3 separate regions of the Homo sapiens genome follow, and all the other regions are linked to region 3. The links come from fine-mapping of genetic effects on gene expression. A gene starts in region 3. Each other region holds a variant in brackets. All regions are shown on one strand. Distances are between the middles of the regions. Region 1 overlaps FSTL4 (follistatin like 4). Region 2 overlaps FSTL4 (follistatin like 4). Region 3 holds the start of FSTL4 (follistatin like 4).

Region 1 (8,178 bases), 85 kb before region 3:
AGACCTGGGCTTGAATCCAGGCTGTTACGCCTATTACAAAAGTGAAAATCATGTAACATTTGTGAATCTTGGTTTTTTTTAATATGTTTTTATATGTAAAGTGAGGTTGACAGCACTGGTCACTTGGGTTTGGTGTGATGATTAAATGTGGAGCCTGACACATAACAGGTACTCAATAAACAGCAACTACTCCTATCATTGTTGCCATTCATTCATTCAACAGCAGTCCAGGGACCTAATATACAATTTATTATTTATTATGTTACCCATTTATTACAATTGTAAATTTGAAACACATTTTAAAATACCAAGTCTGAGAGGACATTTTTGTCTTAGAGCCGACATCCTAGTCCACTGTACAGACATTAAACAATAAATAAGACAATTTCCCATAATAACAATTGCTGTGAAGAAGCTAAAACAAAGTCACAGGTGGGCAGGGAAGACGGGTGTCCTTGTGACAGGAACGTCAGTGGTGGTCTCTCTGGGAAGTTAACATCTGGGAGACACCAGATGAGACAGCAGCAGTCACAAAAGATCCGAGGGGAGCCGCTCAGGGAGAGGGGACAGCACAGCATGTGCACAGGCCCAGGGTGGGAGCAGGTGTGTCCTGCTTGAGGGGCAGAAGGAGGACAGGTCAGCGTGTCTGGAGCATGGGAAGCTGGAGAGAGAGATGGACGGGCTTGAACGGAGACAGGCAGGCAGAGGTGAGATCACACAAGCCCTTGGAGGCCTGGGAAGAAATTGGATTTTATCCTAAGCCTAATGGGAGATCACTGACAATTTAGGAAGATAAATCATTTTCATGACTGTGGGTTTTCCAAGGTCTGACATGATAAAGGGAAAAGGCTTTGTGATGACTGAAGAGTGAAGAGCCAGAGTCACAGCCTCTGGCAATGCAAGAAGAAAGGCGAGAGCGGTGTCAACTCTGAGGAGTTTGTAGGGAATACACACCATTTGCCCGTGTGTCACTTTGCCTCATTCAAGATGCTGTAACTTGCAGAACAGAGGGCTAAAACAACTTCGCGCAGAGAAGCCTGCTGTAGACAGGGGCACCACAGAACGTGTGCTTCTTCCAAGCTGCGTCTCTTTGGACCCGTACTTGCAATACTAACAGGTGCATAGAGGGCCCTCCAGAAATGCACCCCCCACCCCGCCCCTGGGTGGGTTGTACAATACTGCAGTGATTCAAACGTATAGCGCTAAAGCCAGGAAAATCACAACCAACAGACAGCCCCCATGGGCCTCTGCACACAAAAGGCAGCCATCCCGCTGCCTGGCCCAGCTAGTGAGTGAGGCCACCCACTGGGCACCCACTCAGATGCACTGGCAGATGTTAGGTTTCAGGACTGAATTTGGCCTCACTGTACTCAGTCCTCCTCACAGCCCTTTGGAGTCACCTAATCTTGCTAATATGTCTGTAAATGCTTTAGATGAGGAGTCCCTGAACAGACACATGCACCACTAACTTCATGGATCAGAAAGTCCTCTGAAACTTTACCTTTTTAACCCTGTTACATGGAGTCTTCCCAGCAGACGGGTGCCCCAGCCTTTCCGCTGTTCTGGCAAAACAGGCCCACAGTCGATATGTCAGTTTGATGTCTCAAGAGCTACCATTAATTATGTATCCCTTTGGTTAGAAATGCAAATGACCCTTGGCAGTCATTTAGATCTCCATGTGAATTCGCTTATCACGCACATTCCACCCCAAACAGAGCTGGCCAAGCCAAGCGTGATGCTTGATGAGGGCTGGGTTGTTTCCCCCTGCACTGCCCAAGTCCATGTCTGGTTAGCCTGTGCCTGACTTCTACCTCACAAGGATACACAGAGTTCCCACTCAAAGGCAGCTTCTTTGTTTCCCACTGAGAAAGAGCTGCTTAGGGAGAATTAGAGCAAGCTAAATTAGGGGCATTGAAACCATCCTGCCCAGTGGTGTTCCCCAGCTCTGGATCCATAGCTTTCTCATTTGATGGTGAGTGGGGGGAGTTTCTTATTCATCTTAAGCAGTCTCCTCACGGTCTCTGTTCTCCTGAGACTGGCAAATGATCATCAGAAACCGTCCTGGCCTTGGCAATGATGCCGGCCTCACTAAACAAGCTATATCGCAGCAGTGTAATTGCCAGTTAAAGAGCACTTCGTCCTAATTAACCTCTTCAGGGAATGAGTAAAAGCATCAAGAATTCCAGAGTTCACAGAACCTGTGCACAAGCCCTTGTCATGCAAATGAAGAAATTGAGTCTTGGGGTGAGCAGGACCCGAGGTCCCTCAGCTGACCAGTGCAGGACTCGGACCAGAATCTGGACTTCTAGACTGACTCCTGAAGCCCTGGTTTACTCCATCAGCCAGTGGGAACTGTCAATATTCTCCTAGCTCTTTATGCCTTCAAATATGTCTGTCAAAGACATATTAGTTGAGCATGTATTACATGCTCAGCACTGTGCTGGGTGCTAGGGTCATGGGGGAGACGGAGCAGCTTGTTATTCTCTCAACTGTCTACTGAGCACCTCTCACGGGACACACACACTGAGGGCCCTGAGGAAAGCACGACTTTAACAGATGAACAGCTTTGATACCTAGCACTGTGATTTTCTAACTACAATGAGACATTGATACTTATCACACACAGTTATTGGACATACTAAATGCCATGATATTTATGAGGCCTACGGTAAATGATCAATACACTGTGGCTATTTTTATTCTCTTCACTATACAGCTGGGGAGATGAAGCAATTCATGAAACCAAGGGGGTAGCCTCATTATCAAGCACTGGACAATGAGGGGTGGGTTTTGAGTGTTGAGGGAAAGAAGGTGAACAGGAGGGAACTGAGAAGTCTTTGCAGAGATGAGATCTCAGCTGGGTCTTGGAGGAAGAGGAGAATCCATTCACAAATAGGGAAAGCCCAAATGTACAGCCAGAACGAAGGGGACTTGCTGGGTTAGGGTGCGACTCCTATTGGAGAGGTAGGGTAAGGATCCCCCACGGATGGTCTTGAAATTTGGGCAGAAAAAAAGTGAGGGTTCCTAATGACCCCTGGAGGCCATTTAGATCTCCACGTGGATTAGCTTATCACACACACTCCAACCCCAACTGAGCTGGCCAGTGGTGAGAAGATAACATTTGCGGACGAGTTGTGAAGTGGCGCTATGCAG[G/A]CAGGGTCAGGGAGGCTCATGGGGAGGCCTTTGCAGGGAGCTGGGGATGAGGACTTTGACCACATGGGAGTAGCAGGAGGAGATGGGATGAATGCGAAACAGGAGAAGGAGCAGAACTTGTCGGCCAACCTGGACAATTCAGACTTGGACCAACAGGAGCTGGTGAACGGGCTGAAGTTTTGAGCTTGAGTGGACAGAGTTGCCAGCCAACTTCCTTCACCTCCAAAAGGCTCTCCGGAGGCAGTTTCCAAGTCCTCCTTTTTCCTACCCAACAGAGCGGCAACTGGCAGCAAGCTGCCAGTTGTGTAAGTCCACACAGCCACAATCACTGTGGATGAGGATGAATCCTGAGTGCAGCCCTCTGTCCTGAGAAGCTCATCAGGTCTGTGTGGGTATCTCCAAAAGACTGCTAATGCACTCATTCTCAGTCCCCACATGTCCTCTCGTCTCTTGTTTTGTTTCTACATTGCTGGAAAATGAGAGGTTTCAGCAGAAGATGGAAAATTATCCTTTATTTTGATTCTGTGTTTGAACACCTTCCACTTCTCTGCAAATTGAGGGGTATATTTTAGTATAATGCTTGGCTCATGGAACCAGAGAATCAAAAATTAGTCAAGGTTCCAAGAAGACTGGTGAAGCTTTATGCCTCAAAGAGACATGCTACTTTCACTAGAAACTGCTTCTGACTCCTCATGAAGACCAGGGTTCACCCCCAAATCAGGCAGGGCTAGCCAGTGTCTGTTCTCTCAGCCTCTCAGTTGTGATCTCTTTTGCTCTGAGATGTGCACGTGTACACACACACACACACACACACACACACACCCATAAGTGCATTCACTGCATAACTGACCGATGTTATAAGCATTCCAGACATAAAATGCTGTTAAACAGCCAAGCATCATCCCTGGAAATGCAGGCCTGAACTGATCCTATAAGAATTATAAACTGAACAGCTGAGGGAACTCAGAGTAGCAAGAGTCATTCACATTATAGAAATATTCTCCCCTTCTCTCCATTGCACTTTTCCTTATTTGGAAACATGAAGGTGAAGGTGCAAAAGACACATCACACACAGACTGAGCTATGGAGTGATAACCAGCAGGGTGCCTGGCCCAGACAGCTATGTCAATTCTGGGCCCAGACAAAAGAGTCCAAGTAACCCCCCTGATATCCAGGGGTCAGCCACCCCACATGGCAGCCTTGGCCTTGCTTGGCTTCCCACCCCCAAGGAACACTGGGCACTCACCTGCAAGTTATTAAGACACAAATCTTATTAATTTAGCTCCTCCAAGCCAGATGCCTATGTTGGGAAGGAGGGTGAACCTGGTCATCAGGGTTAGCCCAAGCACCACAGAATAACCTTGATAAGTGTTATCATTTCAGGGATTTGGTTCAGGTGTACACAGTGGAACAGGTGGAATGTGGTTGCAGGTAAAATGCCATGTCCCCTCTTGCTGTTTCCGTAACAATTTCAAAGACACACTATTATGGCTCTAAGAAATAAGTCACCTTTAACAAAGGGGGGATTTCCCACAGAAAGGTGAGCTGCCCATTAGGCCTCACTATGGCCTACAAGCTCTGCCAACCTTTCTGGTAACTCTTGGCTTCTTCTCCTCCATTTAACATCTGCTCATATTGAGTTTTTGTTCCTAACTCAAGCCATGCTCTCTTGCTCTCATGGAATTTTCTCTGCTTTAAACACCCTCCCTCCACCTGGCCCCTGCCCCACCCTGCCCCACTGGGCCATCTCCTTCTGTTCTCTGGTTAGATGCCCTGTCCTTGGGAAGGATGTCCTGACCACCGCGTCTGGATTCGACACCACATGCAAGCTCTCATGCTACATGTCACGCTGAACTGTGATTCCTCCTCCCTGAGCTTGTCATGGGATGACTACATCCCTAGCACCCAGGGCAGAGCCTGGCACGCTCCTCTGTGAACACTTTTTGAATTGAGTTGTGCTGCTGAGACACCAGCAGAACCCCTGCCCCACTCTTCTGCAGGCCAAGGCCACTGTTCCCAGCCAACAACTCCCTTGTCCACACAGCTCCTTCCATCCCAGGTGACTTGATATCCATTATAGTGCATGGTTCCCCCAACAACCCGTGTAAGTCAGCATGGCAGGGATACCACCTCATATTTTAGAAATAAACAAATTGAGATGTCTAGTAAAACCTGTTCTTGTTTGGACACAGAGCTGTTCGCTATCTCCAGCCTCTCTTGCCATTAGATGTGGCCATGTGATTAAGTCTCCTCCATGAGAATGTGCATGGCAGTGAGCAGTGCCACCTCCAGGTCTGGCCCATGAGAACGTCCCACAGGCATGGGGGAGCCTCCATGCTCTTGCTCCGGCTGCCTGGGATGCTGATCCCCAGGGTAATCTTGGAAGCCATTGTCAGCCTGGATCCACGAATGGCCATGTGGAAGACAGCTGCCTTGACAATCTGAACACCTGCTCAGAATTGTTCCTGGAGCAAGAAGTAAATGTCCATTGTGTGAAGCCACTGAAATCATGGAGACTATTTGTTATTGGAACCTAGCATTCCCTGTGAATACCCAAAGGCTCAGAAAAGATAAATGACTTGCCCAAAATATTAACAACAAATGCCAGCACCAGAATCCATGTTTTAATTAAGAATCCTCACATGACTCTGTGGGGAACTAGCATTCATCACAAGGTATTTTATTCAGGTGTCTCCTTCTCTGTCTTCCCTATGAGACAAAAACCAACCCAGACACAAACAGTCAGCCCAGGAACCTACCAAGCTAGCACCAGGCCTGGTACATTGCAGGCTCCCAATGCTTTCTTGAGCACACACTGACATAATGCTTACTATGCACCAACCTCTGTTTTAAGATTTTCATAAATTTTAATTTATTGAATTCTCCTAACTTTATGAGGTATGATTATTATCATCTCCATTTTATAGATGAGGATAATTAGACAACACTGCCTCCCTGGTGCCTGATCAAGGAGCTAAAAGATCCCCAACCCAGACAGGGCATTTCTGGTTCTAAACCCTCTCCTAAACAGAGGCTCAGCAAATGGTAAAGTTCTGCTTCGTTGAAGACTCACCCTTCAGAGTTGCTGGTTCAGAACTCTGTTGAATGGTTTTTTGTATATTGCTATTCATCTGTGTAATATTTATTTTCTATGGGAAAGGAAAATAAAGCAATAAAATGTTTCGGGTTTTTTTTTTTTTAAGCGTCCTGTCTGATTGGATTTGTGCAGCAGTCCTCAGAACACGGATCCAAACCAGTACATGAAGACGTGACTTTGTGTAACCATTTCTCTTTTCTAAGGCAGCGAGTCCAGCTTTTTGGAGTGTGACACCCAATTTGCTTGTTTGGATTTTGTTAGACTTTTTTTCTTTCCTGCCTCCAAATTCAGCTAAAACTGCTGTATTCTGTGTATTTGTTTTTTGTTTGAAGCAAATGGTTTTGAGACTTCTGTGCCAGCCCTTGAGACAGCTGGAGACACCCTGGGGTGCTGTAAAACCGACGGTGGGAATCACTGATCTCAGAGAGAAGAAAAAACAGTTCAGGGAAAACTAGCAAATCAGCATCTTCTGAAGCTGCAGCATGAGCCAAGAGCACTGCGGCCCTGGATAGCACCGTTAGGAGCCGCAGAAATGCCTCCCCACTCATGCTGGAATTCAAGGTTACAGCAGGTTAAAAACACCTTGCTGGACTCCAGGTGCCCACCTCAGCACCTTCGCTGCCTGCTCAGGGACATTCACAATGGAGCAGTTCTCAGGGCCCACGTGTAATCCTCAGTCACGTGACATGCATTGTGTGCTCAACACTAGCCTAGGTGCCTTGAAGACAAAGACAAGTAAATAAGCTTAAATGAAGCAAATCTAGTTTCTGCCTTCAAGGAGATTGTGGTGAGGAAGAAGATAAGACACAGGCATAATATCTTGCATGTGTCCTGGAGAACATATGAGTTTAGCTAGAAAGAGAACCTCATCTCCTCCAGCTAGAAATTGCTGTGTGGCTGTGCCACTTTTAGGTGGACCTATGGCCAGGGACCCTGCCCCGACAACAGGGACCCTTCACCATGGAGCCCCAAGATAAACAAGGCACATTGACAGAGGAGGGCCAAGAAACCCCTAACTAAGGGCTATACCCAGGCCCCACACCCCAGTGCAGAGACCTGGCAGGCTGAGCTGGGCCAGAGACTCAGACTCACACAGGCCCTGAGTGGGCTCTCCGTGGTCTTTCCCTCTAACACCCACAGACTCTGATATGGGATCTTGCCCCAGTGCCAAATGCTGCGCAAGCCTGGACCACAGTAGGCTGTGCCCAGACTGGACATGGGCCAGACTCACATCTAGAAGGTGGGACTGAAGATGAGGCTCGGCCCTGGATAGGGCCGATATTCTTCTTTGCCGGGAGAGCGAATGCAGAAAAGGATGGGCTCAGACACACGGACTGACCCCTCCTTGTGTCTCACTGGCTGATCATTGATGGGATGCTCTCTTCACACGGTTTCTTTCAACATCTTTCCATCGAAATCTTAGCAACCTTCTTGTCAACATGTTCCTTTAAAGCAATTGTTACAAGGCACCTCTTTGGAAGAATGTGCTGACCCCGTCCCCCAGTGGTATGAGTGAGGCATGAAAGGGGAGGAAGTGAGATGTCTGGGGCCCTGACTTTGGCCCTAATCTCTGTGGTCACCTTGTCAGAGAGGGACCCACATCATGAGTTTCAGGATTATTCTTACCCATGACTCATGAGGCCTTAAGCGTCCTACTTCTGCCGTGGAATATCCCCTGGAAAGACTGAGGGCCAGAGCTGAGTGTGGAGTGTGGATCCCTCCACACTGGCAGCAGCCAAGCCCCTCCACACTGCATTTGTTCCCTAAAAGAACATTTTTCTAAGCAGGCCTCTCAGCTCTGGGGAATGAACAGCGATGGAGTGAGCAACAAATTGTTTCATTTGCTAAGACTGTGAGCTACAACTTGCAATAAATCAGTGTGAAATGAGAAAGTAGAAAGGGAAAGATGATCCTTCTCCAATTGCCAG
Region 2 (8,178 bases), 370 kb before region 3:
GCCCCTTCTCATGATGGCCCTTGAAGCTGGCCTCAGGCTCTGGCAGGCCCTGCCCTCATCACCACCTGTGTGGTGGTGTTTAGTCATCAGCACCACCACATTCCTCAGGTTGAGATGGGCCCTGGGCTCTGAGGGCTGTCCCAAGGCCACTGTTCCCAGATATCAACCTCAGGTTGATACCCATTAATACCAACATACGGTCTTCAAGAGGTTACCGTGTGCCGGGAACTTACACGTCACCTTGTATGTATTTAATCCTCAGGAAAAAAAAAACCCTGAAAACCCCAATCCAGAAAACAAAACAAAAGCCCAGTTCCCCAGGGGCTGAGACACTAGGCTCTCCTTGCAGATTCATTCAGAGTGGGGTCTTCTCTCACCACCTCCATCGCTCCTGCTCTGGCCAGCTGCCACCTTCCTGGGTGATGCCAGGGACCCCGGCTTCCGGCCCACAGACTCTGCCCTGAGCCAGCCACATCACGCCCCTCATACTCAGAGCCTTGTTTGCTGGGGGCCAGCCCCTCTCAGACCCTACTGCCTCGCACACTCCCCTTGCTGTTGCTCTAGTGTGCCAGGCATGCTCCCCTCCTCCCAGGCTGTCTGTCTGTCTCCCTCTCCTGCAAGTCTGCTCCAACCTTGTCTGGCAGCCCCATTTCTGGAGCCTAACCTCTTCCCCACACCCTGCTTGGCGCCTCCTGTGGACGCACTGCTGTGCCGCCTGCTGCTTTCTGTACTTACCTTGTTTGCTGTCTGTCTTCCCCTGCAGAATGTGAGCTCTGCAGAGGAGGGCAGGGAGGCTTGTGCCCTGTGTGCCTGTCACAGTCCTGGTGCACAGTGGGCCCTCAAAAAATAGCTGTCGAGGGGACTGTACAGGGCACCGAGCTAGGCTTTCTGAGGGGATTCTTTCAGTTTGACAGCCGAGGTGCCCACCTGCCTTCCTGTCCACTCAAATATTACCCAGCCACACAGGCTCAAAATGAGGCAGCTGGCGGGAGGAGCAGAGCACTGGTCTCAAGTCTCGTCCCCACTTCCCCACTTGTCCCCTTCTCCGTCCTGCAGCCCTCGGGAGAACTCGAGGCTCTTTTGCACTCCTCAGGCTGGGGCACGCTGGAATTGACCAAAGCTCAGAGCAGCAGGAAGAGATGGAAAAGCCCATCGCGCATGGATTCCCACCCGCTACTGATGACTTGTGCTGTGCCTCCAACACAGTCATTTAACCTCACTGTCTGTTTCTTTCCTGCTTACCAAGTACACATCCCTGCTCCCCAGGAGCAGAGACTTAACTCTTGGGCAATCACTCAGGTGCTGAGGGGTGTGTGTGTCAGCCCTTGGAGGACTTGAGGGGCTCCTGGGTGTGTTATGGCTCTTCCGTGAGAACCTAAGCATTACCTGTCTGTGGCTTCAGCTCGGAGGAGAAGCTGACTCTGTAATAAGTAAAATAACGTCTCTGGGTGAAAATGATAGGCATCATATAATTACAGAACAAAGCGCATATTGTTTTCTGGATATGAATACTGGCTACAGAAATCAAATTTACCTCATTGGATGTGAGAAGAGAAAATTACTTTAACAATTGATTTATAAGAAGCTACATAAAACTAAGCCTGCAATCCTTCCTCTCCTGAATGTTCTTTGAGATGCATCTGAATACTGCTATCAACGCTTGATTGCATCTCTGTACTTGTCTCTTTATGGATGGCTTTTTTTTTTTTTTGCTCTGATGCATAGAACTGTATTAGCAAAATCAAGGTTCCTTACAGAAATAAACAGATGTCAGATTAGACCATTCTTTGTATTGATGCATATCTGTTTTCTGGGAAAGAGACAATTTTAAAGACATGGTTCTCACCTTTTAAAAAGCGATTTTCTAAGTATCTGCCCTTAATAAAGAACACAATTAAATGAGACTTAAGTATTAAACAATAGTTAAGCAGAGATGAGATGGGGGATGTTGTCATAGTGATCCATGGGAGTCAGGTATATATGGAAATGAGTCATCAATACTGAATATTTAGAGACTAAATGTTCAACGCAAGGACTCCAGAGTAATATTAGAGTTTAGGTTAATGATACTGTCAATGTTACAAGTTCAGACTCAGTTGAGAAACAATTATTCAGAGCTTTTCCGACATTGCCCTCCTCAGGAGCACCCCTGGTTCTCTTTGTGGGAGGAGGGAGCAAAGGGGGGGTCTCTCCCCCAACAATCCTTCAATTCTGGCCCCCAGAATGCCACTAACTGTAGCATCTCACCTGCACAGTCAAATGCAGCAAACTTAAACACAGAGTGACATGTGGTGCCTCGGTGATGGCCATTCCTCGAACACGTCTAGACTTCCCTGGCCCTTATCCAGACCAAGCCAGGACCACATGCACATGTGGGTGAGCACACACAGGCATCCACATGGACACATGCAGTACATGCGAGTGTGCACATGTGGGTGAGCACACACAGGCATCCACATGGACACATGCAGTACATGCGAGTGTGCACACATGGGGGAGGGAGCGCACCCAAACATCTACATGGACACGTGGTACACATGATGATGTACACGCATGAGTGCACACACGTACCAACATACTGGCTCCCTAGTGCTGACCTTCCCGACCAACACTGAGGTTACGGCGACATTCACTTCATTCTAGTCCCTCATAGTGAGAGATGACAGCATGCTGGCAGCCCTCGCAGCCCTTGCTCGCTCTCGGAGCCTCCTCGGCCTTGGTTCCCACTCTGGCCATGCTTGAGGAGCCCTTCAGCCTGCCGCTGCACTGTGGGAGCCCCTTTCTGGGCTGGCCAAGGCGGGAACTGGCTCCCTCAGCTTGCCGGGAGGTGTGGAGAGGCGCGGGCGGGAACCGGGGCTGTGCGAGGGGCTTGTGGGCCAGCGTGAGTTTCGGGTGGGCATGGGCTCGGCGGGCCCCGCACTCGGAGTGGCTGCCAGCCGGCAAGCCCCGGGCAGTGAGGGGCTTAGCACCTGGGCCAGCAGCTGCTGCGCTGGATTTCTTGCCGGGCCTTAGCTGCCTCCCTGCGGGGCAAGGCTCAGGATCTGCAGCCCGCCATGCCTGAGCCTCCCCCACCCCCACCCCCCTCCCTGCCAACGTGGGCTCCTGCGCAGCCTGAGCCTCCCAGAAGAGCACTGCTCCCTGCTCCAGGGCGCCCAGTCCCATCAACCACCCAAGGGCTGAGGAGTGC[G/C]GGCGCACGGCACGGGACTGGCAGGCAGCTCCACCTGCAGACCTGGTGCAGGATCCACTGGGTGAAGCCAGCTGGGCTCCTGAGTCTGGTGGGGACTTGGAGAACCTTTATGTCTAGCTAAGGGATTGTAAATACACCAATCAGCACTCTGTCTCTAGCTCAAGGTTTGTCAACACACGAATCAGCACCCTGTGTCTAGCTCATGGTTTGTGAATGCACCATTCGGCACTCTGTATCTAGTTATTCTGGTGGGGACTTGGAGAACCTTTATGTCTAGCTAAGGGATTGTAAATACACCAATCAGCACTCTGTATCTAGCTCAAGGTTTGTAAACCCACCAATCAGCACCCTGTGTCTAGCTCAGGGTTTGTGAATGCACCAATCGGCACTCTGTATCTAGATACTCTGGTGGGGACTTGGAGAAACTTTGTGTGGACACTCTGTATCTAGCTAATCTAGTGGGGACCGTGGAGAACTTTTGTGTCTAGCTCAGGGATTATAAACGCACCAATCAGCACCCTGTCAAAACGGACCAATCAGCTCTCTGTAAAACAGACCAATCGGCTCTCTGTAAAATGGACCAATCAGCAGGATGTGGGTGGGGCCAGATAAGAGAATAAAAGCAGACCTCCGGAGTCAGAAGTGGCAACACGCTGGGATTCCTTTCCACGCAGTGGAAGCTTTGTTCTTTTGCTCTTTGCAATAAATGCTGCTGCTCACTCTTTAGGTTTACACTGACTTTATCAGCTGCAACACTCACCCTGAAGGTCTGCAGCTGCACTTCTGAAGCCAGCGAGACCACGAACCCACCAGAAGGAAGAAACTCCAAACGCATCCGAGCATCAGAAGGAACAAACTCTGGACACGCTGCCTTTAAGAACTGTGACACTCACTGCGAGGGTCCGCGGCTTCATTCTTGAAGTCAGTGAGACCAAGAACCCACCAATTCCGGACATAATAGACGGACTTGCCATCCTGCAAAGACCTGAGGAACCATCCTTTTTCTCAGAGTCCTCTCAAGAAAAAGAAGTCTCTGCAACTTGGAGCAATCTCTAAGTAGCTGTCTGAGCCCCCTGGAAGAGGGCTGTTGTGGGCAGCTGCATTCAGTGTGAGCAACCTGGAGTGGGCCTGTCCTCCTGCTCGTTCCCAGGTTCAGGCCTGGAAGAGGGAGTTGGAGGCATGAGAGAAGCCACTGTGGGGAGAGCACCTGGTTCTTCCAAGGCTCGGGGCATGTGTGGTCCCTGGCTGACTTGGGTGTCCTCTGGTGTGTGCGGTCAGTCTTCTTCTGACTGTGGATGCCAAAGGGGAGGCCCTTATCTCTTAGCGCATGACTCATCTCTTCGCGCATGACTCATCTCTTTGTGCATGACTGTATTATTCTCAGCGTGTCATGTGGTTCCTGTGCATAACTGAGCTCAATGAATATTTGCTGATTTCAGGGAGTGTGTTAGCCTAGGATGCTACCTCCTGGGAAGCCCTGAGAGGAAGGATAGTTAAGAATTCATATTACCCAGGGAGGTCTGGCCTTGCCCTCTTTGGCTACAGGGAGGCAATCTCTAGGCTCTGGAATGTCATGCCTCATAGGGGTCTCTTTATTTGCCTGGGGTCTTTGGGCCAGGTGGTACCAGTTCTGTCTCTAGAGGGGCTGGGGACGAGAGGGCAGCCATGTGGGCAGTATTTGAATGAGCTCCAGCAAAAGCTTTGGACACCGAGGCCTGGGTGAGCTTCTCTGGGAAATTGACACTGTGACAGTGACATGTCTGTGACTCCACTGGGAGAGGAGAACAGAGATTCCACGTTTAGAGCCCTCCTGGGCTCTGCCCTTTGGGCTTCATCACTTGGCTGACTTTAATCTGTACTCTTTTTGCTGTATTAAACTTTAACTGTGAGTATAACACTTACAATGAGTTCTGTTTTTCCAGCAAATTGTTGAACCTGAGGGTGGTTTTGGGAACCACCTGACTTCCAGTTTATGTCAGAAGTGAGGGTGTCTTCTGTCGAAGAGCCAACTTCAGTTGGCTCAAAAACTCAAATAGGGAAGTTCTGACCTAGTGGTATGCGTGTTGAAATTGCGTATAGGGACAAACCTGATTATCTGGGTATACACAGAGGCCCAGGCACCTGCAACAGAAGGCTCATGCCAGAGACATTGCTCTGAGCCCTCCACTTGTCCACCCTTAGAGGCCAGCAGGCAAATACCTCTTGACATGCCAGGACTCCAGAGTGTTATGTAGTAGGGGTGGCAGCTAATGGGGCCCTCTGGTGAGGTGCAGGCCTGAGCCCTTGAATGGGGCTTTGGCTCCTTGGCTAATTAGCTTGGCATCCCCAGCTGGGGCGGGAAGGGACTCAGGTTCTAGACTGCACTGTAGCAGTCATCTGAAGTTCCAGACCACCTCACACCTGCTGCTTTCCTTTGGGAAACCTGCAACCCTCTTCCTGGGGATCCTTGGATCCTGAATCCCCAGGCTGAGAAGGCCTTACCAAGGGTTTCAGCTCCTGACTCTAACTTGGACCACACTCACAGCCATGACAGCTGATTCCTGTCGTTGAGACACTCCAGAGAGGATTTAAATAAATTTCCTTCTATGGCTCATTTCAGGGACCAAGACGACTTTCAGTTAGGAATTTCCTCCTGACACTGTGTTCAAAACTCTTACACATTGTTGGAGAGGGCGTAGACTGGTGCAGCCATTTTGGAGAGAGATTTGGCAAAACCCATCAAAACTGAAAATGCATCACTTCCGAGAACTTATCTTACACGTCAACTTACACACATGTGCAAAGAGGTGGGTATAAGGATGTTTACTGCAGTCTTGTTTGCTGTAGACAAAACCTGAAACAGCTGCATGGGGCTGGGGAGGGGGAGTCCAGGAAGAGCAGTGCTTGGGCATGGCTCATGGGCTGCAGGACCTCCTGGTGACTCCCTTGTCCTTGCTTAGTGCAGAGAGTGCCTTGGAGGGGTAGGCTCCAATCTGTAGTGGCCAAGAGAGGCACCAATCGGCCTCCTTCATTGACTGGGCCTCTGTAGGGAGGCAGTGAGGCTCAGGGAGGAAGAGACTCTGTGGGGAGTTCCTGGGTTCTGCAATCAGGGTATAGAAGCTGAATCAGAACCTTCCTGTGGGACCCTGTACCTTGGAGATGGGGCCGGAAGTGGTCACTGAGTACAAGTCAAGCCCTGAGGCCAGGGCTTCCCCTAAGGCTTTCCCCTAAGAGGGGAAAGAGGACCTCGAAAGAGGCACTGAGAAAGCAAAGGCCAGAGGAGACACTTGGCAGGGCAGAGTCACCCCACAGGTTCCACAGGCTGGAGTACCATAGGCCCCGGCCCCCATATCTTGGAGATCTCTGGACACTACTCCCAATGGTTTGAGCACATTCAAAACTCTAAAGAACTGGATGTTCAGATGTTTTTGACACAAGCTACAGAGAATTGGCCAAAGCCTTTAAGTGCTTCAAATGTAGTGTTTTCTAAGATTTTAAAACAAAATGTACCCAAGCATTTAATGAGATTATTTTAATGCAGAGCCTACAACCACTGTCTATCGTGGTGCAAACAGCTCTCCATGCTAATCAAACGCCTCTCATCTTTTTACAATGAATTCATGACTGGTTCATATAAAGACAATAAAAATTAAATGAGTCATGAGCTCCTAAATCATTTTCTTTTGGTCTTTTTAATAACTCCCTTCCAAAGAAGAGCTAGCTGAGAGCATACGCTTCATTAGAATTATTTGTTCCTGGTTTTATACCATTTAGGTATGGGGAGAAAAGTGAACATTTTAACACATCCTTCAAACACTGCCACAAATACTTTCTTCTAATGGGTTTTGTTTTTTGCTTTTATCACCGTACTCTGCCTGCCGACATTAGAAAGCCCCAAATAGCGAGATTCAGTGAAAAAAAAACCCAAAACAAAAAAGAGTGGCTCTTTCAAGTCATTTGAAATATACTGAGTTTGTTGTAGGCCTTTTTGTTTTTTCTGTTTTTTTAAAAAAGAATACAATAGAAAAATGTTTTCTCTCCCTGAGAATATCCTGGCTAAACAATTCCACGTGCTGGTCTCAGAGCATGTTGCTTCCTTCCTTGCTGGGGCCAGAGGCCAGCAGCCAGTAAGAATAGGAGCTCCACACACAGGGACCCATATCCAATTTGATACATTCCACTGGGGCCTGGGAACTACAGACAGCCCCACAGCAAAGATTTGGAATTGCTGGGGGCTAGATATTATGTCCCACAAGCAAGAAACCCAGAGAGCTCTGGGCCAGGGCATGTAGGTGGCTGTAGGCCCATGGGCAAGTTCTCCACTCATCTGAATGAGTTAACCCCACGTGCCTCATGGGGCAGGGGTATGGGATGAGCTGATGCTTATGACCTCACAACCGGCACGGAGCCTGCACCGTGTATGAATGGTAACAACACTGGCAACAACACTTGTGATGGTTCAACCCAACAGCCATTACCTGTGACTTTTGAGATGCCCTGTCCCTGTTTCTGCCCGTTCCTGTCTCCTGGCCCTCAGGATCATAAAGGACAGTGAGGAAGACAGTTATGAGATGAAGGGTGGGTGACATTGTTGAGGCAGGATGTGCCGACTAGGTTTGGGGACAGTCACTTCACCCTCCGAGTGGCCGCTGTGCAGGCTGGGTGGTCAGAGAAGCAGAGGGCTGAGGCCCAGAATGGGTTTGCATGTTCTGTTTCTGCAGAAAGTGAGGCAGCACCCCATCCTTCCCAACCCCAATACCTAGAATGGGGGCCAGAGTAGGGAGGGAATGTGTGGATCTGCTTCTGAGATGGGTCTCACCCCAGCCCCCAAAGCCTGGACCTGAGTCCCCAGGAGACAGGGGCTACAGGGGAATCTCACCAGGGAATGGCCCCTTGTGGGGGCCCCACAGCAGGGGCTGGGGGCAAAGTCTCCCCTTCTACCAGACACAAGCACAGGCACACTCCTGGGGGCCGCCTGGCCCAGGCCCAGGTCATGCCGAGCACAGGGTGCT
Region 3 (8,170 bases):
ACCTAGGACTGTCCCCATATAAAGAGCTGAGACTACCTTTTGTTCCAAACAAGTCATAAAGTACACTGACTTGATGCTTTAACCATCTTGTTTGGAAGGGAGGTGTTTCATTGCTTCCCCTGTGGTTTCCTACCAGAGCTTCAACAGACATTCCCCCAGTCAGGAGAACCTGGTGCTAACCTGGCTGCCGCATAGATAGGACACCAGAAGACCAGAAGGTGGACGAATCCACCCAGGTTCAAGGACAAATCAGTGGCTAGGCCTAAACTGGAACCCAGGCATCCTGCCCCCAGGGCAACTGTTTGGTTCCTTATATTATGGCACACTTACATCTAGAGTGGGAGTTTGGATTCTTTGTTTAGATAGGCAGATTTTGCTTTTCTCAATGCTGAAGGACCTCCACTAGATTGTCTACCTCCTTGTGAAAACCACAGGATTTTCAGGTGTTCTAAAATAAGCTAATATCTGTGCTATTATTTATCTGTATTTAGAATTACAGAGGTATTACAGGTTAGTATGATGTAACATTCCAAATACTGACTTGCTTTTTGAAGAAAGCTGAAAAAGCATGAAATAGGAATGCAAATTGTTAGGGAGAAATAGGTATTCATATGAAAATACCAAAATCTGCCCCACCCAGAGAACGCACACAGGCATGTAAGCTGTCTTTATTGACCAAGTTCATAGGCCAGAGAGAAGCAATCCCATTAAACTGGCAATGGGTTTAATACAAACTTCTCTTTCTATTCCAGGAAACAGCCCTGTTGGGAAGAATGGGAATTCTGGCCCTCAGAGTTTCGGTGGCATTGTTCATCCATTCTCTCTCTCAGCCTCTCTCCCAGAACTTGGTAACTTTACCAGACTAGCCATTAAGGATTAGCCATACAGAAATGGCTTCTTTTTGTAATCAACAGGACCAGAAATTACAAAGATGATTTGGCAGAACCAAGCAATGCCACCCAGCCTTGAAGAGAACAGTCAGATTTGTGACCCTGAAGCATCTGCATTCTCAACCTTTCCAAATGAAAAAGTGTCTGCCCTACACACACTGTAGGTGTGTAGCATTTCATACATGGCATGTTGGCAATCAACATATAAAAATCAACTGGGATTCTGGAATTCCAAATACTGACTGAATACAACGTGGAATTCTCTTCTGCATGTCTGCTCAAATTTAAAGGGGGAAAAAAAGCCACATCAACCCCAGCGTGAAACCAGGAGGCTGTACGGGAACCTCTCAAAGGCTTACGACCCTAGTTTTGATATGTGAGTGTTTTAGAAAAAAAGAAAGTGGTACAGATTTCCTAAGACAGTCCCTAAAACACCAACCCAGGGAAATTAGGCATGGAGATATAGCAAGCTAACGTTGCAGCAAGCCCTAATGAAGTTAAATTGCATTTCCTATTAATTATCTACTCTATATCATTAGTTAATTCTTCCCCAACACTTGATAAATTAGATGGCTACATTATTCTATGTGCCATGTATAAATCTCTATTCCTATTTACTCTGACGTTTAACACAGACACACATGTGACTTCCAATAACCTTTATCCTTACAACCTTCAGCTCATACCTCTTAAGAACCACATGCTCTTGATTGCAGTTCTATTTTATTGGAAATTCCATGCCTTATGTTATGCATTGAGACAGAAAATGTAAAGAAAGATGTGCTCTTGAAATATCTAATTGCATTAAGCTAGGAAGCACACAACTAACCGCACATAAGCAACTCAAGAAGGTTGAGTTTGCAGAGAAACACTCAAACAAGGCAAGGTAGGAGTTAAGGTAGTTTTATGAAACAATGACTATTCAATGCTAGTCTCTGAATATAGTGTTAAGTCAAACAAAAGATCATAACGTGAAGGTCACATTTAAAAAGTCCTACGGCCCTTAGTAAAAGGAAAAAAAGTCCTCAGTGACTGACTGGTCATGGTGGAAAAATCCAACCTCCTCTTCCCTCACCCACCTCCAGGGCACAGCCGAAAGGATAAAAGTTCTCCTAATACCCAGAAAAACAAGCTGGCCTTTTCCAGAAGAAAAAGAGCTTTCCTAGAATCAACAAAAATTGAGGATGATCATAAAAGTCTAAGAGAGAAAAAAGCACTAGGACAACTCTAACGAGCAATTTAAATACATTACATCAAAGTGGACTATTTTCTTATGTGAACTTTGGCTCAGTCTGAAGTCTTTGGAGAGGGTGGTGCCTTTTTTTCCTAGGATGGGAGGGAAAAAGCGAACATTTAGCAGAGTATGGCAGAAATGGTCTAGTGATGCTGCAGTGCCTCCTTCTCACAACGCTAAGATGGGAAGCAGACACGTGCCCTGTAGGGCATCTGCTCGTATGTCCGGCTTGAGCTCCTGCCTGAGAGTTGCTGTGGCTCTGGAGTCTCAGAAGCTGCATCACTCACACCTCCGACCATTCCCTTCCCAGGTGGACCCCCCGCCAACCAGACCCAGAGTCTGTCCTGGGGGCCAGAGGGGCAGGCACAGAAACTGGCGCCTGGCTCCCAGGATTAAGAAGACACTATTAAAAAGCATCGCTGGTTTCCCCTAAATTTGGCAGTAGGAAAATAACTTAGGACTTTCAAGAAGAGTCCTAGTCGCTCACTGATCCGTCTTTTCCCCTCACAGATTGTGACACAGGCCCATTCCCGGTGAACATTTTGGCTGGCAGTTACTTCACCACCTATTGAAATTCTGTTTACGTTTGGCCCAGAGAACCTGGACGGATGTTTGTATCTCGGGGGCCCCATCTAGTACAATTCCTGGTGCACAGGCTTGCAACAAATTTACGAAGGTAACAGACCAAGCTGCCGGCGCTGTTTTTCACTGGAGGAAAGCTCGGCGGAAGCGACACCTAGAGGGGAGCGGCGGGCTGTGGCCGCGCCATTCATCAGTGTCGGCGGCCCGCGGCCGCGAGCGAGGGCTGCTGGACAGCGCCCCGGCACCCGCTCTCGAGCCGCGACACCGACCTCGCCGGGCCCGCCCCGCTGACCCGCGCACTCCTAGTGCACTTGCCGCGCCGCGCGGAGGCTCGCCGCGCTCTGGAAAACAAGAAACCCCACTGCCTCGGCGGCTTTCCGCTCCCGCAAGAGTTGCGGGCACAAAGTCCTCAGGTGGCAGGCCTGGGGTTGGCGCCGCTTTGTCGGCTGCAGGGAGCCCCAAAGACTAGCGTCAGCTCGTCCCCAAACTCGAGGCGACAGGCGCCGAAAGCAGAGTGCTGTGCCTGCCTCGTCCAGGTCCCTCCTGAAACTCAGAACTCGTCTTTGTTTTGCGGGCGCAAAGAGGGCGGAGATCATCCACAGTGCAAGCTCTCTTAGGACCAAGCCCCCAGCCCGAACGCTGAACGCCCCCAACACACTGCTCCCTAGACACGTTCAAGCGGGTACCCCGGGCCGCTCACTCTGGACCGCGGCCGGCTACGCACAAGCAGCGCCGCAGGCTGCCTGGAGTCGGGTCGTGCCCTGATTCCTTCCTCCCCAGCCTCACATGCGGCGGACCCCGGGGAAGCCAGGGCCAGGCGAAGCGCAGCGGGCCCTTTGGGCTGCAGCGAGGAGACGCAAGTTTCCCCGCAAAGCCGCGGGGAGGAGGTGCTGAGAATGCCTGCCCGGCGCCCCAACCCGGAGCCAAGGGCACCGGGCCCGGGCCGAGGGGCCGCGCTCGCCTGGCTCCGCCGGGGCCGCTCGGGGTCCTGAACCCAAGAACGGCGCCTGCAGGATTTCGGAGCCGGGCGCGAGCTGCGGGCTCGGCCCGAGCGCTTCTGCGTGGCGCCCCGCGTGCCAACCGGGTCACTCCGGTCCCCACCGTAGACCCCGGCCACGAGCCTCGGCGTCCCAGCCTCTCCTCGAGTCCTGGCCTTGGCCGGGGTAGCCCTGCCGAGCCCTGGCCCAGCGGTCCCTTCCCCGCGGGCAAACTTGGCTTTCCCGGCGCGGGCAGTAAGGACAAGCAAGCGCCCGCGCCGGGCCCTGCAGCAAGATGCGGGGCCGCGGGCGCCAGGACCCCAGTGGGGTGCAGCGGGACCGGCTGGTGGCGGCGCCAGCGACATGGCACCCTCCCCGCGCCCGCTGGGAGCTGCGCCCGCGTACCTGAGACGGCCGGGGCCGAGGGGAAGACCAGGTGGCCGGACTTGGGCGGGAGGGAGGGAGCACCCCGTGGCGGCGGCGGCGACCCCGCCCCGCGTCCTTCGGCTGGTTTCTCGGGCTGTCGGCGGGTCCCGGGCTCGCTGGAGGCTGTTGAGGCTCCAGCTCCCTGAGCCGCCGCTGCCCGCTGCTGTGCCACCGCCGCCGCGGCTGCCCTATTTCTGCCGCCGGGACCGGAGCCCGTGACGTCACCCTCTGGGCCCCGCCTGCCCAATCGCCGCCACCTGTGCGCGCCGCCCGCCCGCCAGCCGGTCAGACCCGCGCGGCGGCCACGGCAGGTGCGCGGAGCAGGCGGGCGCGCACGCGGGGCGCGATGACTCCGGAGCGCTGGGGCCATCTAGGGCCCGGAGGGAGGAGGGCCAGCGTAGCGCTCCTGCCTCTGGCTAGCGTGGAGCTCGGCAAGTGACAGCCCCTCTTCACCTCTGCTCTCCTCCAGGCTCCTTTCCGGGCCAGGTTCCCCAAAGCTGTGCTCTCCAGGCGCACAGGGGGTCTCTGAATCCGCGGCCATTGCTCGTGGAGTCCAGGCGGGCCGGTACACCACAGCAGGAGAGCTGTCCCTGGGGACAAAGTGGGTGAAATCCCCCGCCGTTGAGACCCAACAACCTGGGAAACAGCAAAGGTTTTCTCTTTTCTGAATCTTCCCTCTTCCAACTACAGAATCTTAAGACATTCAGGGCATACAGGGGCAATCCCAAGTGACATTTGCCTACCTGACCTAGCTGGGCCCAGAGGGTCCCTTCTCCCTTAGAACAGGATATTTCCCCATCCTGATCCCATCCCCAAGCCTGGGGCTCCCAAACTTTTCTGAATCCCTCTTTAACATCAGCAGCTTTTGAGATCAGTCTTCCTTCCCGAATGAACTGGAAACACCTTTGTAACAACTAGGGGCCCATAAATGGTCATACGTAGCCTCAGTCTGGCAGGAAACTTAGGAGGGAGCCCCTACCCAGGCCAGGCTGATGGCCAGGAGACTTTCTGAGGGCCTGCCTCCTGCTCTGGCTGCGTGGGCACCAGGGGCCTTCCTGGCTTAGGTGAACAGTGTTCTGTCCATGCCTCTGTAATCTCTCCTGGCCGGGGGGAGGTGACAGAGGGGATTTTTCTGAGGATGAAGTTAGTTAAATATAAGGAAAAGGGGAAGAATAATGGAAGGCTGACCTGAAGAAAGAGATATTACGTTTGTTTTTTCCTTCCACAGATTTTCCTGCCGCTGAACCCCTCCAATGCAGCAGGCACTGTGCTATTAATAGTTGCTAGAGATACAGCAGTGAATGGGCCAGCGCGGTCTTGGCATCACACAGTTTTGGTCTGGGGTCCAGCTCTCCCTCTATCACTGCCAAGCTATGTAATGCAGAGCCAATCGTATCTCTACTGTAGGTATCAGTTTCCCCACTTGTAAAATGAGGGGTTGGACAAAACCTGGTTGACTTCCCATGTGGATACCATGATTTTTACTCAGAAGGATAAAGGCTACTACATCCTCAGTGACCCTGGGCCCTAGCCAGTGTGATCCTCTCTCAGATTTGACTATGAATCTTTGCCAAGGCCACCATGACTGAACTTCTGGGGCTGGCTAGGGGCCAGATTCTCCATGGCAGGACTGGGGAAGGGATGGCACTTTTCATCTTGGGAAACAGAAAAGAGAAAATGAGTATAAAAGGAAGCAGGGAAGTTTGGAAATGTGCTGTGCCTCCCTCTGAAATGTAATTCTAAGTCTGTGGTCAGGAACGTACACCATGGCTTAGAGGCTGGATTCGGCTCTCCTCTAAGACATGAGGTATTTGGAAAAGCAGATTTCTATTCTCAGCTCTGATCACAAAGTCCCTGAGTCAACCTAGTGGCCTTATTACATAATCAAAGCAGGACTTTGTGTATTTTTTGTTTTTTAGTAACTCAAGGTCATATGTAAATCAGGGTCTATAGGTTGACCAAGATCAGAAATAGCTCTGTTTAATGCAGTGAACAGGCACTGAACTTCTACACGCTTCCCAAAGAAGGAGAAGAAGGTAGTTGCTGCAAACCAGATGTATGGAATATTCCTTAGAGAGAATGCTAACATCTGAAGTGAGCTGTTTAACTACTGTGCATAAAATAAGAGTGAAATTAAAAGTCACCTCGGAATGAGAAAGGTGAAGTGTGAATGACAAAATAAAACAAGGCTCCAGGGAAGCAGCATCAGATGCCAGTAACCTTGACACCTCTTTGAATTGCTCTGTGCTTTTACCTCTCAGTGTAATTTTTTGTTTAATAGTACACCCCAAATTGGAAAATAGGCTAGATTTCACACTGAGAATTTCAAAATTTGCCTGAAACCCTGTTTCAGAACTTGCAAGCATACTGATTCTCAATAGCCAACTAGGATTCTTAGGGGAAATAATGGTTAAGTTTTGAACTTCATGTAATTCAATAAGCTTGGAATAGGGGAGCTAAAAGGAAACATAAATTCCAGTTACTGCCCCCCAGCCCCACTCTGTTTTTGGTGAGTGGTTCAGCCAGAGACACACATAAAAACATTATTAATATACTTTTACAAGATCAAAAAGTTTAAGCAACCCAAATATTTTTTTACGTTGCTGGTTTAAAATCTTTTTTCTATTTCTAATCCTTACCAAAAACACAACAATATAATGAAAAACTACTGCCAAATGATGTGTGTCTCTTAGGACATTTCAGATTACACCTGCATATCAGGATACTCAGAGATGACACATAGCCATGGGAATCAGGAGGAAGCAAGGCACTTTCTCCAGATCCAACCAAAAGTATCTGCATCACTAACTGTGGGTCAGCTTACCCTTGGGAGTCCCCACTAGGCTGGTCAAACAGTGCCTAGAAATACCCATTAGAAGCCAGACTGGGAAGTCATGTGAGAAGGTGGGAAAAGGCAGGAAAGAGTCTTCCTTGTCTTGCATAATTTAACGTTCTGCTGCCTGTTCAAAAAATGTTTTTGTAAATCTTCAAACCAAACCATGCAGTTTACTGAAGAGCCAGCCCTGTGCTTAGGAGAGCCCTGGATGGGAGGCACAAGGATGGGGTCTCTCTCCCGCCTCAGCCTCTAGGGCTCAGTGAGCCTGGGAGAGTCACACCTTTCCCAGAACTTGTTTTCTCTTAAGTGGGAATTGGGAATGGGTACATGGGAGGCAGTCATACTAAACGACATGTCTAAGGCCATTTTCAGTTCTAAAGGTCTATGCCTTTATTTTGCCTGTATTTATAGAAGTTCAGTTATTCTGATCTAAACAGAGCTATGATGTTGAAGTTTTCCTCTAAGTCTAATATTAATGCTTATTTTTAAGATGATAATTCATTAATCACCTAGAAATTAAGGGAATGTAGGCAGTAAGTTCAAGATCCTAGACTTAAGATTACACATACATAATTGTTTTTAACTTTATTTCAGGGAGAAAAGTAGCTAGCATGGAGATAAGGTATTCATTCAAGGGACAACTGTGATTGGGGAAATTTTTCGAGACAAAGAAGAAGTGGTATAGAGTAGGAATTTTAATGAAGAAGTTGGGATAAATGAGAAGATGCAGTGATGGAAAGGGAATTGTGAATGGTAAAAATGGAGGGAGATGAACATAAAACCCTCACCATGGCATTGTTACCAAGGCAAATTCCCAGCAAACTCACAGGGGCTGGATTGATGGCACAAGGGGACCAAGAAAGGTGCTGATAACAGGAGGAAACTGAAGTCTGCTACTCTTAAGAATGTATTGTTTACAAGGGATAATTGGGGATGAGATGGCCAGGCCTACAGCCACAAACTATCATACCCTACTGAGTATAGGCAAAAGGGATGAAAGAGGGAACATATTAAGAGGAGAGTGAAAAGAGGGGCCAATTTCCTTTCTTTGAAAGGGACAACATAATTTTTATCATGACCCTGTTTTCCAACTCACCAGTATAGAATCATAAATAATGTGAAAATCTAAATCTATCTATCTATCTATCTATCTATCTATCTATCTATCTATCTAATTTTAAAGGTGAACTGCTACCTTAGGGAGCTTCCATTCTTTCTTTTCCTC

What was found. PIP is the estimated chance that this variant, and not a neighbour inherited with it, causes the effect.
Region 1: its variant is fine-mapped to the expression of FSTL4 in whole blood (INTERVAL, PIP above 0.99).
Region 2: its variant is fine-mapped to the expression of FSTL4 in whole blood (INTERVAL, PIP 0.98).

What each region holds. Positions count from the first base shown.
Region 1 is chr5:133,523,528-133,531,705 of GRCh38, forward strand. The region is part of intron 3 of FSTL4 (follistatin like 4); the gene reads right to left. Among named protein-coding and RNA genes, the nearest start is that of FSTL4, 85 kb to the right of the region's middle. RefSeq lists an enhancer at 1,293-1,793. The variant G/A (reference allele first, on the strand shown) is at 3,154.
Region 2 is chr5:133,236,157-133,244,334 of GRCh38, forward strand. All of the region lies in intron 7 of FSTL4 (follistatin like 4), which reads right to left. Among named protein-coding and RNA genes, the nearest start is that of FSTL4-AS1, 16 kb to the right of the region's middle. RefSeq lists enhancers at 1-328, 3,928-4,428, 4,359-4,638, 4,429-4,929, 7,651-8,172. The variant G/C (reference allele first, on the strand shown) is at 3,188.
Region 3 is chr5:133,608,237-133,616,406 of GRCh38, forward strand. It overlaps FSTL4 (follistatin like 4), which reads right to left and starts at 4,305. Exons shown (of 16, transcript NM_015082.2): 1 at 4,089-4,305. RefSeq lists a silencer at 2,987-3,036.